2 separate regions of the Homo sapiens genome follow, and region 1 is linked to region 2. A link means that fine-mapping ties the variant in region 2 to the expression of a gene that starts in the linked region. Tissue or cell type: whole blood. Region 2 holds a variant in brackets; the other region holds the start of a gene. All regions are shown on one strand. Distances are from middle to middle.

Region 1 (7,307 bases), 82 kb after region 2:
CTTAGACCCATCCACCCGGCCCCTAGGTGAGCCTCTCCCGACCCAAGACCCAGCGTCGTCCCTCTGTCCCCAGCCTTCCCACGGCCCCCTCACTCAGGACGCAGCCCACAGCCTGGCCCCACCTGCAGACCTTACAGAGGCCACTTGGCCCCTCACACAATGCCCACCTCACAGGCCTTCTCTCCCCGCAGAGGGTCAGACATGCCCCTGCCCCAGCCTTGGCATTTCCACCCCGCAGGCCTCCACGGGGCTGAGCCCTCAGGTACCAGCTTCTGTGCAAAGCCATGCCTGGAGGCCTTCCTGGGCCACGTGGTCTAAGACAGCAATCCCCTCACACCCAGAGCAGGCAGCCCTCCCTGCCCGGGCCGTCTTATTTTCCTATGTCATTCCTGTCACCACCTGGCGCTCACCTTGGCTAACTGGAGCTCCAGCCCCTTTGGACGAAAAGAGCTCCCAGAGCCACTCCCTGGTCTCTGATGGGGCTGTGTGTCCTCTCCAGGTGCCCTCCCCGACAGCCAGCCCCTCCGCCTCTGCACAAGGGAGGGCCCAGGGAGGCTCAGGGCCTGTGTGGCTGTGTGTGTGTCTCTATGTGTCTGTGTGTCTGTGTGTTTCTGTGTATCTATGTGTGTATGTGAATGTGTATCTGTCCATGTATCTGTGTATATCTGTGTCTGTGTGTGTGTGTATGTCTGTGTCTGTGTGTATATCTGCGTCTGTATGTATATATGCGTGTCTGTGTGTATACGTGTCTGTGTACCTGTGTCTTCGTATGTCTATGTGTGTATTGGTGTGTGTCTGTGTGTGTCCATGTGTGATGACATGTGTATCTGTGTCTATGTGTGCATCTATGTATATCTGTGTGTATGTCTTTGTGTATCTATAGATCTGTGTCTATGTGTATATTATCTCTGTGTTCATCTGAGTATTGTATGTCCATGTGTGTCTACATGTGCCTGTGTCTGTATCTGTGTCTGTCTATGTGTCTATGTGTGTATCTGTGTGTCCGTGTGTGTGTGTCCATATATCTGTCTATGCATGTATCATCTGTGTGTCTGTGTATTGTGTATCCATGCATATATCCGTAACTATGGGTATGTCTGTGTGTGTTTGTGTCCACGTGTGTGTATCTGTGTGTGTCTATATATCTGTGTCTATGTGTGTGTCTGTGTCCACGTGTGTGTATCTGTGTGTGTCTATATATCCGTGTCTGTGTGTATCTGTGTGTATCTATGTGTGCATCTGTGTGTGTCTGTTTTCTCTTTGTTTTTATGGTGTCCACGGATGGGCCGACTGAACCACCAAATTCCTCCTCAGAGCCCAGTAAAGGCACCAGGCGGAAGGGTCTGGCGGAGGGTTGGCCGCTGTCTCCTCACTCCTCAGCGGGGTCCTGTCTTCCGACTTTTGTCTCGCGCCGCCGCAGCCTGTGGACTCCTGGGCCCTCCTCTGAGAGCCTGCGCTGTGCCTGGCCCCGGGCGGAACTTTGAACGAGGCTCCTGTCTTAACTCGACTGCTTGTGCTTGGGGGAGATAAACAATAAACAGGAGCAGAAGAAAGTGTCCTCAGACCACGGCGGGTGCTGTTGGGAAAACAGTGGCGGGGCAGGGAGGGGGGCGCTTCTGAAGGACCTGGCGAGGTAGAGGCCACTGTTCTAAGAGGCAACAGACGAGATGAACCAGGACCCTCTGCGAGGGAGGGAGGCGTCCAGGGGTGCACACGGGTCCAGATAGCTGCCGGGCTCCCAAAAACCACTCTGGGGGTGAGGATGGGAGGGGAGAGGAGTTGGGGGCAGGAGGCAAGTGAAAGTAAGTGCCCAGGGAACCTCCATGAGGCCCCCCACACCGGATAATAGTGTTCCATGGGGTCTGCTCAGCCCCATGTCTGCCCCAAGACACTAGCCACAGCTCTGCGTCGAGGTCCTGTAGACCACGGGAGAGATGGGGGGGCCAGGAGCCTATAGAACTCCAAGTCCAAGGGGACCCTTGCTGGGAGAACACAGGCCAAGACCTTCCTTCCTGCCACAGGCTTCTGTCCCTGCTGTCTGCTCCCCCAGGACTCCCCCCACACCCGGGATCTTCCTCCTCACCCTCCTTGGCCTCTCTCAGTGACCCTGTCTACACACAGATGTGCTGTCCATGTGAGTGGAAGGAAGGAAGGATGAGGTCCACTCACAGGGGTGAAGCTGTCTCCTGAGGGGGCAGCCCACCTCCAGGTCACACCGCCCCACCCAACACAGCCTCCAGTCCAGCTCCAGGTGGGCCGCACCCAGCCCTTCACTCACTTCAAATGGCCCAAGACGCATGGATTCCACTGGCCAGCCGGACTGGAACAACTTCTCCCCTTATAAGTATCTAGTGGGTGCCCACGGAATGCCAGGCAATGGGCCAGGCTCAGAGATGAGTGATTCCTCAGGAACAATGGGCTCAACGCCCTTAATTCACATCAGAGGAAACTGAGGCTCAGAGAGGGCGGAGAGGGCCCTGGTAACACAGCCAGCCGGTGAAAGTAAGAGGGGGGGCCCAGGCCCTGCTCCCGGCCCACCCGCCTGGGCTTGCTGGCGAGGCTGCTGGCCCAGGCAGTCTGGGCACTGTGGAAGCAGCCGGCTTGAGGCACAGGGGATGTGGCCTCCTCCCACACACTTACCTCCCTGACTACATCTTAGGCTGACATCCAGATTAACTCATATTCCCTACAGGGAGCTGCACGGCCAGAAGCTGCTGGTTGCAGAAGCCACCAGCTGGTTGTACAAGCACCGCTCCCCTGGTTGTGGGTGACAGATGAGATGCACTCACGTGAACACACATGCATGTGCACACACACATGCACACAGACGCACACACAAACACACACAGGCATACACACGCACACGCACATCCACACACACACATGCGCACACACACGCACACGCCTGCACTCACACACCCCCGTCGGCCCCAAGCAGGAAGGCGCCCCCGGCACACCAGCCCCTCTCAGCGCCCCCAGCGGGCCCGGCGCCTGGAGGGTTAAGGCGGGCGCGTCCCGCGGGTGGGCGGGGGGGGGGGGACGGGACCGGTGCCGGGAGCTCCGCTGCCCTGGCGTCCCCTGGGTCCAGGCCCAGTCGCTCCTTGGGCCTCTCTCGCGGGGCCGCCTCCGCCTCCTCCTTGCCGAGACGGGCGTGGGGCACGGGGTCGCCGCCCGGCGGGGAGCTCATCCGGCGGCGCAGACGCCCCGCGGCTCCGGGGAGGGACTTGGCCTGGGCCCCGGCCCCGCGCTCCTCTGGGGAGGAGCCGAGAGGCTGCAGCTGGCGGCGGCGGCCCCGGGCGGGAGGGGGTCCCAGGAAGCGGCCAGGCCGGAGCCCCCCACTCGGCCGCAGCTGCTGGCCTGGCCAGAACCGAGCGCGCCCTCCCGGTCTCCGCCGCTTCCCTCTGCAAACCGCGGGCAGGAGGAGCCCTCTCCTTAGCGGGCCCGGAGCTCAGAGGCGTCGCGGGGCGCGGCCGAGGGGAGGAGGAAGGAGAGCGGGAGCGCAGCCGGCCCGGGCCCAGCCGTGACTCGTGGGGCGGCGGCTCCGCCAATCTGTGGGCGCTGACGCGGGGGGCGGCTCCGCGGCGCTCGATATCTGCCCGCCCGGGACGCGGGGCGCCGAGAGGCTCGGCCAGGCGGGAGCTGCGCTCGGGGCGGCCGCTGCACCTGCCCGGGACCCCGCCGGCCGCTCCCCGCGCCCACCCCTTCCGCCCTTCGCCCCCCCCTTCCCCCCAGCCCCGGTCTCCCGGGCGCGGCGTGAGAGCAGAGCCCGGCCCGGAGGAGCCGCCCCTTCCCCGCCCGCCCGCCCGGCGCCTGGAGAGGAGCGCGCTGAGGATCGGGACGCCTGCGGCCGCCGCCACCGCCCAGGCCCGTCGCGCCCCGGCCGGGATGGACCCACACGCCCGATGAGCCCCGCGCCGGCGGCTGCGAGCGCCGAGCCTCCCCCTGCTGCGGCCCCAGCCGCCCCCCGCGCGCCCGGCTCCGCGGACCAGGACCCCTGGGCTCCCCGGCTGAGGGCGCGGCCGCTCCGGAGAGGCCGAGCGGGGACGGGCCCGAGATGGCGCGGGGACCCAGCGCTCCGGCGGCGGGCGCCCTGCACGCGGCCCGGGCCCGGGGACAGCCCCGGAGCTGGTAGCCGCCCGGCACCGATGGACCTTGACCCGCGAGGCGGCGCCGCGCTCGTGCCCAGCTGCAGCTAGAGGGGCGCGCGGGCAGAACGCGCTCCAGGCCCGGGCCGGCCCGCGCGGCCATGAAGATGATGCTGGTGCGCCGGTTCCGCGTGCTCATCCTGATGGTGTTCCTGGTGGCCTGCGCGCTGCACATCGCCCTGGACCTGCTGCCCAGGCTGGAGCGACGCGGCGCGCGGCCCTCGGGGGAGCCCGGCTGTTCGTGCGCGCAGCCCGCCGCCGAGGTGGCCGCGCCCGGCTGGGCCCAGGTTCGGGGCCGCCCCGGGGAGCCCCCGGCCGCCTCCTCCGCCGCCGGCGACGCGGGCTGGCCCAACAAGCACACGCTCCGCATCCTGCAGGACTTCAGCTCCGACCCCTCCTCCAACCTCTCGTCCCACTCGCTGGAGAAACTGCCGCCCGCGGCCGAGCCGGCCGAGCGCGCCTTGCGGGGGCGGGATCCCGGCGCCCTAAGACCCCACGACCCCGCGCACCGGCCGCTGCTGCGAGACCCCGGCCCGCGTCGGTCCGAGTCGCCCCCCGGCCCCGGCGGAGACGCCTCCCTCCTGGCCAGGCTGTTCGAGCACCCGCTTTACCGGGTGGCGGTTCCGCCGCTCACGGAGGAGGACGTCCTGTTCAATGTGAACAGCGACACCAGGCTCAGCCCCAAAGCGGCGGAGAACCCGGACTGGTGAGTGGGGGCTGGCAGGTGCCCACCCCCAAGGGAGCCGTGAGCCCAAGGCATGGTGTAGAGAGGTTCAGGGGCCCCAGAGGGCCGCCCCCCATGGAAGAGGCCGGGCAGGGAGTGTGGTGCGGGAGGAGGCAGCCGCCTACCTCAGGGCGCTGCCTTTGTCTCCAGAATAACCTCCTCCTTGGGAGGGGCTGCCGGCTGGTCCGGGAGCTGTGCCCTGTGGCTGCTGGTGAGGAAGCCAGACCCCGCGCCCTTTAGAAGCGAGTCCTGACCAGCCGTGGTCACCAGCTTGGGAAATGGGGTCAGGCAATGAATGAATGAGTTGGTGAGGGAAGGAGCCAGGCTGCCGCTGGGCTTTCAGACACTTGGCGAGGGTGCTCTGGGTGGGCACCTTGGAGAAGGTCTGGATGTGCCTATTGAGTCTTTTAAACCCAGTGGCTGGAGCAGAATTATCAGAGGGGCTTGCTGGCAGCCGTGAGGTGCAACAAGGCGGCCCAGCCAGCAAGGGCGGTGGGTGTGCTGGCTGCAAAGAGATGATGGCTCGATAAAGGGCGAGAAGCCACGGCAGGAACCTCTCTTTAAACTGTCCTGGCTAAGCCCTTTCCCCACCCCCCGGCCCCTCCCTCCGCCACACAGATCAAAACAAGCAGATGCTACACCGAAGCAGTGGAACATTAACCACGACAAGGCCAGAATAAGTAACTACCTGCCGAAGGTTACCCCAGCAGCAGAGGGGGAGACCAGCCTTCCAAAAGATCTGGTTGAAAGTCCCTTCTTCCCTGAAATGTCCAGGCCCAGTGTCTTCTGTCTAAACACACTGGCTGTTTGGAAGCCTCTGAGCCTTGCCTGCTGGTCAGGTTCAAGGAAATGCTTGGAAATTTGAGAACCAGAGCATTGGCCTGGGCTGTGGCTCTCGGCAGGGAGAGACGGCCGCCCAGAGCAGCGAGTGGCCAGGAAGTGTATCCTAGCCCCCCACCCCGCCCCCGTGTCCACCGCAGGACAGAGCTTCGGCAGAAAGCACCTCAGCTTTAGGTGAATTCGAGCTAGGACAAGTTCCGCGTTTCCCTCCAGCCCAGCAGGCAGACGGAGGGTCTGTCCCTCCTCCAGAACGGTCCCTTGACCCCAGAGATGTGAGGACAGGCTGCGTGGGCGGCGGGTCCTCCATGGGAGCCTGGGCTGGAGAGAGTGCTGCCTCCTTCCTCTCTCCCCACCCAAGGCTGCTCTCATTAAAATCAAATTTAGCCTCTTGCATCATTGTGCCCCTGGTTGTTGGAACAAAAGCAGAGAGCTGGGGAAGGTTCCTGACAGACTGGGCGTGTCTGTGAGTTTCATGCAGCCTGTGGTCAATGGTAGGTTCTCCCCTCTACTCCAGGGGAGGGCCACAGCCCCTCGCACCCTCAGCTGAGGTCATGGTTGGGCCATTTCGGTGACCCTGGGACAGACGTGGCGGGGATGGCAGGGCAGCGCTGACGTCCTGGAATTAGTTTTGCTGTAGTTAGAGCTGTCTGTGGTGTCTCCAGAGGGTGAGTAAGAATTACAGGCCTTTCACCGTGTTATTAGTTGGCAGCCGAGCGGCCACAGAAGAAAGCGCAGACGTTGCAGGGCCCTCTTTAAGCAGAGGCGCCTTCAACACATCTGCACTTGCTTGAACCCAAAGTTAAAAACACTGGCGTCGGTGCCCTCTCCCCGTCATCCGACTCACGGGCCTGTTCTTTCCATGCTGATGTTCGTCCTCGCTGCTCCCTGCAGGCCGCATGCGGGTGCTGAAGGTGCAGAATTCCTCTCCCCCGGGGAGGCGGCCGTGGACTCCTATCCCAACTGGCTCAAGTTCCACATTGGTATCAACCGGTACGAGCTGTACTCCAGACACAACCCGGCCATCGAGGCCCTGCTGCACGACCTCAGCTCCCAGAGGATCACCAGCGTGGGTAGGTGTCCTTGGGTGCACTCAGGGCCGTCTGTGTGCCGGCTGTGTGGCATCAGGGCTGCTGGGGCAGGCTATGTGTTAGAGAGGTCTGGGAGGCCGTTGCTCATTACGGCAGCGTCACCTCCTGCAGCAATCTGCACGGGCAGCGAGGAGGGACAGAGGGCTCGCGTCTCGTGTGCTCTCACACTGGATGTGCTCCTGATCTGCCGCACGATGAGCGGGGAGACGCCTGGACAGCCGGTCCACTGCGCTCTGCGTCCTCACCTGGGTGGTCCCGGGGGTGCCAACTGGATGACAGAGTCCTTCCCTCCTGGGGTAGAGGAATAGAGGGGTATCTCTGGCGGCGGTGACCCCTCCACCGGAAGCGTGTGCATGGAACTCTCCTGCTTTTCTACACACGACCCTGGCTGGGTGGGGAGACAGCCATGAGCCTGCTTCTTGTGGTTTTGAAGCCGTCCTTCGTCAGACCTCAGCAAGGCGCTGTGCAGTTTCATACTGAGGAGACATAGGCAGGGCTCAGGACGGAGGC
Region 2 (7,307 bases):
GTAGGAGGGGTGAGTTCTAGTGTTGATAACACAGTGAGGGGATTATAGTTAACAACAACATACTGTATATTTTGAAATAGCGAGAAGAAAAGATTTGAAATGTTCCCAACATGAAGAAAGGATAGACGTTCGAGGTGATGAACGTCCTAAATACCCCAATTCCATCATTACACATGGCATGCGCGTATCCAAATATCTCATGCACCCCATAAATATGTAAAATGTTATGCATCAATAAACAATTAAAGGTATAAGCGTTGCAGAGTGTCTTCCTTCCAAATAATACAGTATGAAAAGGGAAAAAGAGCAACTTTACAGTGGAGAAAACTGGAAACCTCTGCCTCAGCCACATCGCCGAGGTTGACATCACCGGTGACAAGTCACGCAGACAGCAAGGACGTTGGTGTGATGCTGTGGGAAGGTCACTTTCCATCCTCCCCACAACCCGTGACCCCAAACTAATCACAGGAAAAAGATCAGACAAGTCCCAAATGAGGGACATTCCACAAAATACCCAACCAGTCCTCCTCAAAACTGTCAGGATCACTAAAAATAAGGAAAGTCTGAGAATCTGTCACAGCTGCGAGGGCCCTAAGGAGACATGAGGGCCAACTGTAACATCATACTTTGGATTCTGAGGTAGAAAATGGATATTAAGGGAAAACTGAGGGAATGTGAATAAAGTATGGACTTTAGTTCCTACTACTGTATCGACATGGGCTAATTCACTGTGACAAAGGTACAGTATAATGTGACAGGGTAAGAGTAGGGGAACCTGGGTGTGGAGTATACAGGAACTCTGTGCTATCATCACAATTTTTCTTTATATCTAACAATGTTCTAAAATGAAGTTTATTTTAAAAATAAAAAATAAAGACAGGGGTCCTTGATATCAATAAACCCCATGAAAATACATTCATTAATAATCAGGGAAGCACCTCCCCCAGCACATGTGCATATGACACCCATGCACACACTCAAGCACACGTGCACATGACACCCAGGCACACACTCAACCCAAGCACATGTGCACATGCACACCTGTGCACACACACTCAACCCAAGCATGCATGCATGTGTGCATCTGTGCCCACAGTCAACCCAAACACGTGTGCACCTTACACCCATGACACACCCAACCTGAGCACATGCACACATGCTCAACACAAGCACGTGCACACATGCATACCCATGCACACACAATGCAAGCACATGCACTTCTGTGCACACACATGATGCAAACACATATGCATTGCATGCCCATGCCCATGCAGTCAACCCAAACACGTGTGCACATGCACATACTCAACCTGAGCACATGCACCCATGTACACATGTGCACACACACTCAACCCAAGCACACATGCACATGATACCCATGCACACACACTATGCAAGCACTTCTGCACATATGTGCATGTACACATGCACTCCATCCAAGCACATGTGCACATAGACACCCATGCATGCTCAACTAGAGCACATAAGCAGATACATACATGTGCACACACACACAACCCAGGTATGCATGCACATGCACGTCCATCTGCACACTCAACCCAAGCATGTGCACACACACACACTTGTACACACACACTCAACCCAAGCACATGTGCAGTTGCACGAATGTGCATACACAACCCAAGCACACACTCAACCCAAGCACAGCTCACCAGGGACAGAGGCCCAGGAACAGACTCTGACAAAACAATGAAGAGAATCCAAAAAGCAATTACACTGCCAAGTATTACGCAAACACAATTATTGGAATTGCTAGTCAAAAACGGTTAATAGAATAATTAAGATAGATTGACCTAAAAGCTGATTTTAAATTAACCTGACATGTGCATATACTATCTAAATAATACTCTTTCCTCTGATTTAGTCTCTCATTAAAATCAGATTTCATTGGGAGAAATTATACATTTGCACCATCATTGGGAAGAAGAAGCCATGTTCACTCACCCACTGATGAAAATAGGAGATTATTAGAGGAAGTAAAATGGGAATATATTTTCCTGGCCTTCCCTGGCACAGTGTGATCTGTCCCTGTAATAAACCACCGCTTCCTCCTAGCCTGCCACTCGGGAGGTGAGGGAAGCCAGTTAAGATGGCCTCAACTAAGGACCCCAAACCACTAGTGTCTGTGTGTGTCTGTGAAGCTCGCTCACGGGGGAAGGGCCCGTGGGGTGGGCAAGAGCAAGGAAGAGAAATGAGCACTTGGAGACGCCAGGCAACCAGGAAGACCCAGAGGAAACTCGGTACGTCTGCATTGAACACGTCTTCATGGGTGAGAAAACTGCAGCCAAGGAAGGAGAGGGATTGTTTCCAGGCAAACAGCAAGCGCTGGCAGAGAGGCAGGGACAGAGGCTGTTTTCGGCATCCAGCATCTCTGTTCAGCTCATGATTCCCTGCCACACCCCAGATAAAATGAACCCCTGTGGGGGTTTGTCTGTGCACGCGTCCAGGGCCTATCCTGGTCTGTGTGAACAGACTGGCCCTGCATCCCAGCACAGAAGCCTGGGCTGAGCACCAAAGGCCCCCAACTGCGGGAGGCAGGTCCTGGTCACTGCTCCCTCCACGGCCATGGCTCCAGTGTGCAGATCTCAGCTAGTGTCTAAAACACGAAGGCACTGGGTCACTACAGCTATGGGCCTCCTTGTTCATTGAAACCCTTGGAGTTACCTCGTTAACACTTTTTAAATGGATAGCCACTTCACATTTTTTAAGATAAAGAATTTCCCCATTAAAATTATTGAGATTCAGTAATAACACATTATTAGGATAAGCAGGACATGTAAGATGCTACAAAATGATCTATTACTTGGAGGATTTTAAAACCCTAATGAGAAAAACGCTCACTACCATTTATTCGTTCTCTTAGCCTTCAGCACCATTAGTCTGAGGAGCAGCATAGGGCTGGGGCTGGCTGCATCCACACTCACCCCTCTGATTGCTCCAGAACCTTTTCTTCAAAGAGAAATCTCTGCACTCTGCAGGGACGGTAAGTGG[C/T]GACCCTTAGGTAGCTGAAAGCACGGGGAAAAGAGCAGGAAGAGGTGGGAACATGGAGATGGAGAACACAGGGAGCGGCACGCTCAACGCAGGTGGAGTCTGTGTCCCCTCCAGCGATAGCCAGAACCAGGACCACCAGGGATCCGACATCACTGGCCCCATCCCGTAGGGTGGGCTGTGGGCAGGGAACAGCTGAATCGCCAGGCCACTCTCAGACCCTTGGCAGACACAAGGAATAACAGCTGTGGCCGCCGCTGTGGCCGCAGTCCCAAAGTTTGGAGAGAAATAGCAGCAAGTAGCAGCACCACTGTCCGTCAGCTTGAGTGCTTCTCGGACAAAGGAAGACAGTTCTCCTGTTTCCCAAAGACTTGCAAAGGCTGTGTGTTCCTCAGGCAGCTACTGCGCCATCGGCCTCTGAGTGATAAGGAAAGGAACCAGGGCTCAAACCTACTCCTGAGTGAGTCAAAGCAACTCCGCACTCCCTGCCAGCACTGAGGGTGACCCCCGAGCCCTGCTCAGGAGCTGTGGGGCCCGAGATCTCCCCTCCGCCCCGTGGGCAGGGGAAGGGCAGCAAAGGCTCTCTGCCACGCCTGTGTTCGGGCTCCAGAACTCTTGGCCTGGTGTCTGGAAGATGGGATTGCTGCCTTGGACAAGCCTCTCCTCCTTGCTTTTCCCTTTTTCTCACAGTGGGGTTTAAGCTAAGGTCCTATTCCTAGATCACTAATAATGATAGCAGGTGCCATTTATGAACACCTACTGTATCCCAGTGCTGCTCTCAGTGCTGTACCTGTATTCTCTCATCTCATTCTCTCAAGGGCCCAGTAAGGTAGCCACTTCATTAGCCATCTTTTACTAAAGAGCAGACTAGGCACAGAGACGGTAGGTCACTTTCTGAAGGTCACACAGCGAATGCAGGTGAGAACCAGGCTGTCCACGAAGGAAGTCTGACCCCTGATTGGGCTGTAATCACTGTGCTGTGCAGACACCCTCTCCATCAAGACCCTTCTGTGTTGCACCCCCCACCCCCACCCCCTTCTCTGCTTGGAAATGAAGTAGCTTTCAGGGGACTCTTATGAGGCTCCCGCCTCCCCAGGCTGGCCCCACACAGCCCCAAGACAGGAGCCCCCAGTGGCGCCTTGGTGGGCTTCTTGAGGGTTGCCTTAATCTTCCCCAGCCACCCACGGGAGACACCTGAGGTTTGTGGCTTGTGCCACGCGGCTCCAGGGCCTCCAGCACCCACCTGCAGACACGGCTTCAGCCGGCCCATGCTCCTTCTGTTTCTTTCGCTAGCTTGTTTAGGTTTCATTCACAAACAGTAAAGCCCATTCATGTGACAGTTGTATACAGTCATGTAACATCTACCACAGTCAAGATGTGGAACATTTCATTCTCCTAAAAAGTGTTCTCCTGCCCCTTTAGATTCCCTCCTCCAGCTCCCAGCCCCAGGCAGACAGTGATCTGATTCCTGTCCCTGTAACTTTGCCTTTCCTGGAAGCTCATAGACATGGAACAGTACTCTATCTCTTCCACTTAACTTGATGATTTCAAGACTTATCCATGTCGTGTAGGCTTAATATTTTGTTCATTTTTTATTAATGGGTAGTATCTCATAATATGCATGCACCGTAGGTTACCAACTTGCCTGTTGATGGGCATTTGGGCTGTTTGCAGTTTGGATGTATTACAAATAACATTGGTGTGAGCACTTGTGTCCACGTCTTTGTGTGGACATATGTTTTCATTTTCCTGGGGTAAATATTTAGGATTGGAATTGCTGGGTCATGTGGTAAGTGAATGTTTTACCTCTTAGATAGTGTCAGTCCATTTTCCAAAGTATTTCCATTTAAAATTCCAACCAAATTTCATGCATTCCAATTTAAATTGTATGTAAATTCCCATTGTTCTATATCCTTGTCAACACTTAGTATTGTCAATCTTTTTAACTTTAGACTGCTTTTAATGTGTACTCCTCTGATGGCAAGTGACGTTGATCATTTTTTCATGTGCCTATGGGTCATATATCTTTTTTGTCATGTATTTGTCCAAGTCCTTTTCAATTTTTAACTGCAGTTTTCAAATTATTGATTTATAAGATATCTTCATATATTCTGAGTACAAGCCCATTGTCAGATGTGGATTTTGTAAAATTATTCTGCCAGTTTGTAGTCTGCTTTTGCATTCCCTTAACTCTGTTTAATTTTGAGCAACCTTTTCAATTTTGCTGAATTTGTTTTATCATTTTTTATCATCTGTGCTTTCACATCTTGTTTCTAAAAAATGTTTATTCTAGCCCAAGTCATAAAAATTCTTCTGTATGTTTTCTTCTAGAACTTTAAAAGTTCTAATAATTTTCAGTCCATGATCCATCTCAAGATAATTTTGCATGTGGTGGGAGGTAAGGCTTGAAGGTTATTTTGTTTTTCCATGTAGATATCAACTTATCCTGGCACCATTTATTGAAACAGCTAGTTCTGAAAGAATTAAATTTTTACCTTTACCAGCAATCAAGGGACTATATAAATGTGGGTCTTTCTGACTTCCCCTTCGGCTCAGTTGGCCTCTGTGTCTTTCCTGATGCCAAAACCACACTGTCGTGATTACCATACCTGTATAGTAATTTTTGAAATCAAGTAGCGTGGGCCCCACAACCTTGTTCTTATTTTTCAAAGTTGTTTCTGGATATTTTAACCCTTTTGTCTTTCCATGTAAATCTTAGCATCAGCTGTCTCATTTCTTCAAAAGGACCATAAGTGGCACGGTAGTATATTGATGAGCAAAGACATACAATCGATTTTTCTATGAAAGTTAAATGCTGCAACTTGGCTAAACTAATTTTATTTGTACTAATAGTTTGGTTTTTATGGTGGTAAAATTCACATATTATAAAATTCACTATTTTCACAATTTTGAAGTGCACAATTCAGTGGCATCCAGTGCGTTCACCACGTTGTCGGCCCCAGGACATTCGCATCACCAAGAAAGGAGACACCACATCAATCGAGGTGTCACTCTCTGTTCCTCCCTTCCCCCAGCTCCTGTCACCACTAACCTGCGTTCTGCCTCTTTAGATCTGCCCATTTCGTATAACTGGAATCATATAACATGCGGCCCTTTGTGTCCGTCTTCTTTCACTCATCATGTTTTCAGTTTCAAGGTTCATCCATATTGTGGCATGTTAGGGCTTCATTCCTGTTTGTGGTTGATGAGTAGACCACGCTTTCTCAGTGCCTATGCTAGTTGTTTGTAAGTTTCTTAAGATACTTCCTCATACATGATTCATGATATCTGCATAAAGAGGCAGTTCTTCTTCTCCCTTTCCAGTGTTTATGCTTTAACTTTAATGTCATTTAAAGCTACCTGTGTCTCTGTTCTTCAAGTGCAATTTTGGAAGACAGCATGTGTGTGGGTCTTGTTTTCATATCTATTCTGACAACCTCTGCGTTTTACCTGAAATCTTTGGTCCACTCATATTTAAATAAGTATTGACATGGTTATGTCTGGGTCTGTAATTTTATGCCTCGCTCTCTATACATACCCTCCAGTTCCCCCCTTTGTTTCTCATTTCTTAACTTTTTTTAGGGTTACGTGAATATTTACTGATTGATTTTTCTCCTCATTATATTTTGTGAATATACGTGAATATTTATTGATTGATCTTTCTCCTTATTAAGCTTTTTCAGCATGGTATCACCTCAGTAGTAGAGCATAATCAGTCCTAGACTAATTTAGGCCCCACCCAAAAAAGCTTAAAATCAAGCCTCAAATATATCAAATTGTTTCCAAGTAAAGTAACTTCATCCCTGAAAAGTTTTAAAATAATTTTAGGAGTGCAAAACTATCCAGGATCTAACAAGGAAAAGTACATGATGTCTAGCATACAGTAAAAAATCACCAAGTATGCAAAGAGGCAGGAAAACACATCATGTAATGAGGAATATCAACAAATTGAAACTAATTCACAAATGGCACAGATGAGGGCATTCCTAGACACAGATGAACTGTAGTTATTATCACTCTATTCCACATGATAACGTTAAGCAGAGATATGAAAAACATTAAAAAGTCCCAATTCTAACTTTTAGAGATGAAACCATTTCTGAGATAAAGAAAATTCACTGGATGAGATGATGAGATTAGACAGACACTACAAAAGGAAAGATTAATGAACTTAAAGGTATATAATAGAAACCATCCAAAGTGAAACACAGACAGAAAATAGACCCCTTCAAAAGGAGCAGAAAGCTAATTGGGGGGCAACTTCAATTGGCCTAAAATTCATACATTTAGAGTCCCAG

The links. PIP is the estimated chance that this variant, and not a neighbour inherited with it, causes the effect.
Region 1: it holds the start of FAM20C, and the variant in region 2 is fine-mapped to the expression of FAM20C in whole blood (TOPMed, PIP 0.98).

The regions. Positions count from the first base shown.
Region 1 is chr7:188,954-196,260 of GRCh38, forward strand. It overlaps FAM20C (FAM20C golgi associated secretory pathway kinase), which reads left to right and starts at 3,618. Exons shown (of 10, transcript NM_020223.4): 1 at 3,618-4,851; 2 at 6,601-6,779. The coding sequence starts at 4,247. It overlaps LOC124901808 (a long non-coding RNA gene), which reads right to left and starts at 1,165. Exons shown (of 2, transcript XR_007060632.1): 1 at 1-1,165. RefSeq lists an enhancer at 6,395-7,307.
Region 2 is chr7:106,840-114,146 of GRCh38, forward strand. LOC105375114 (a long non-coding RNA gene) reads right to left here. Exons shown (of 3, transcript XR_926959.3): 3 at 5,817-7,307. Among named protein-coding and RNA genes, the nearest start is that of LINC03015, 39 kb to the right of the region's middle. RefSeq lists an enhancer at 1,835-2,551. The variant C/T (reference allele first, on the strand shown) is at 3,013.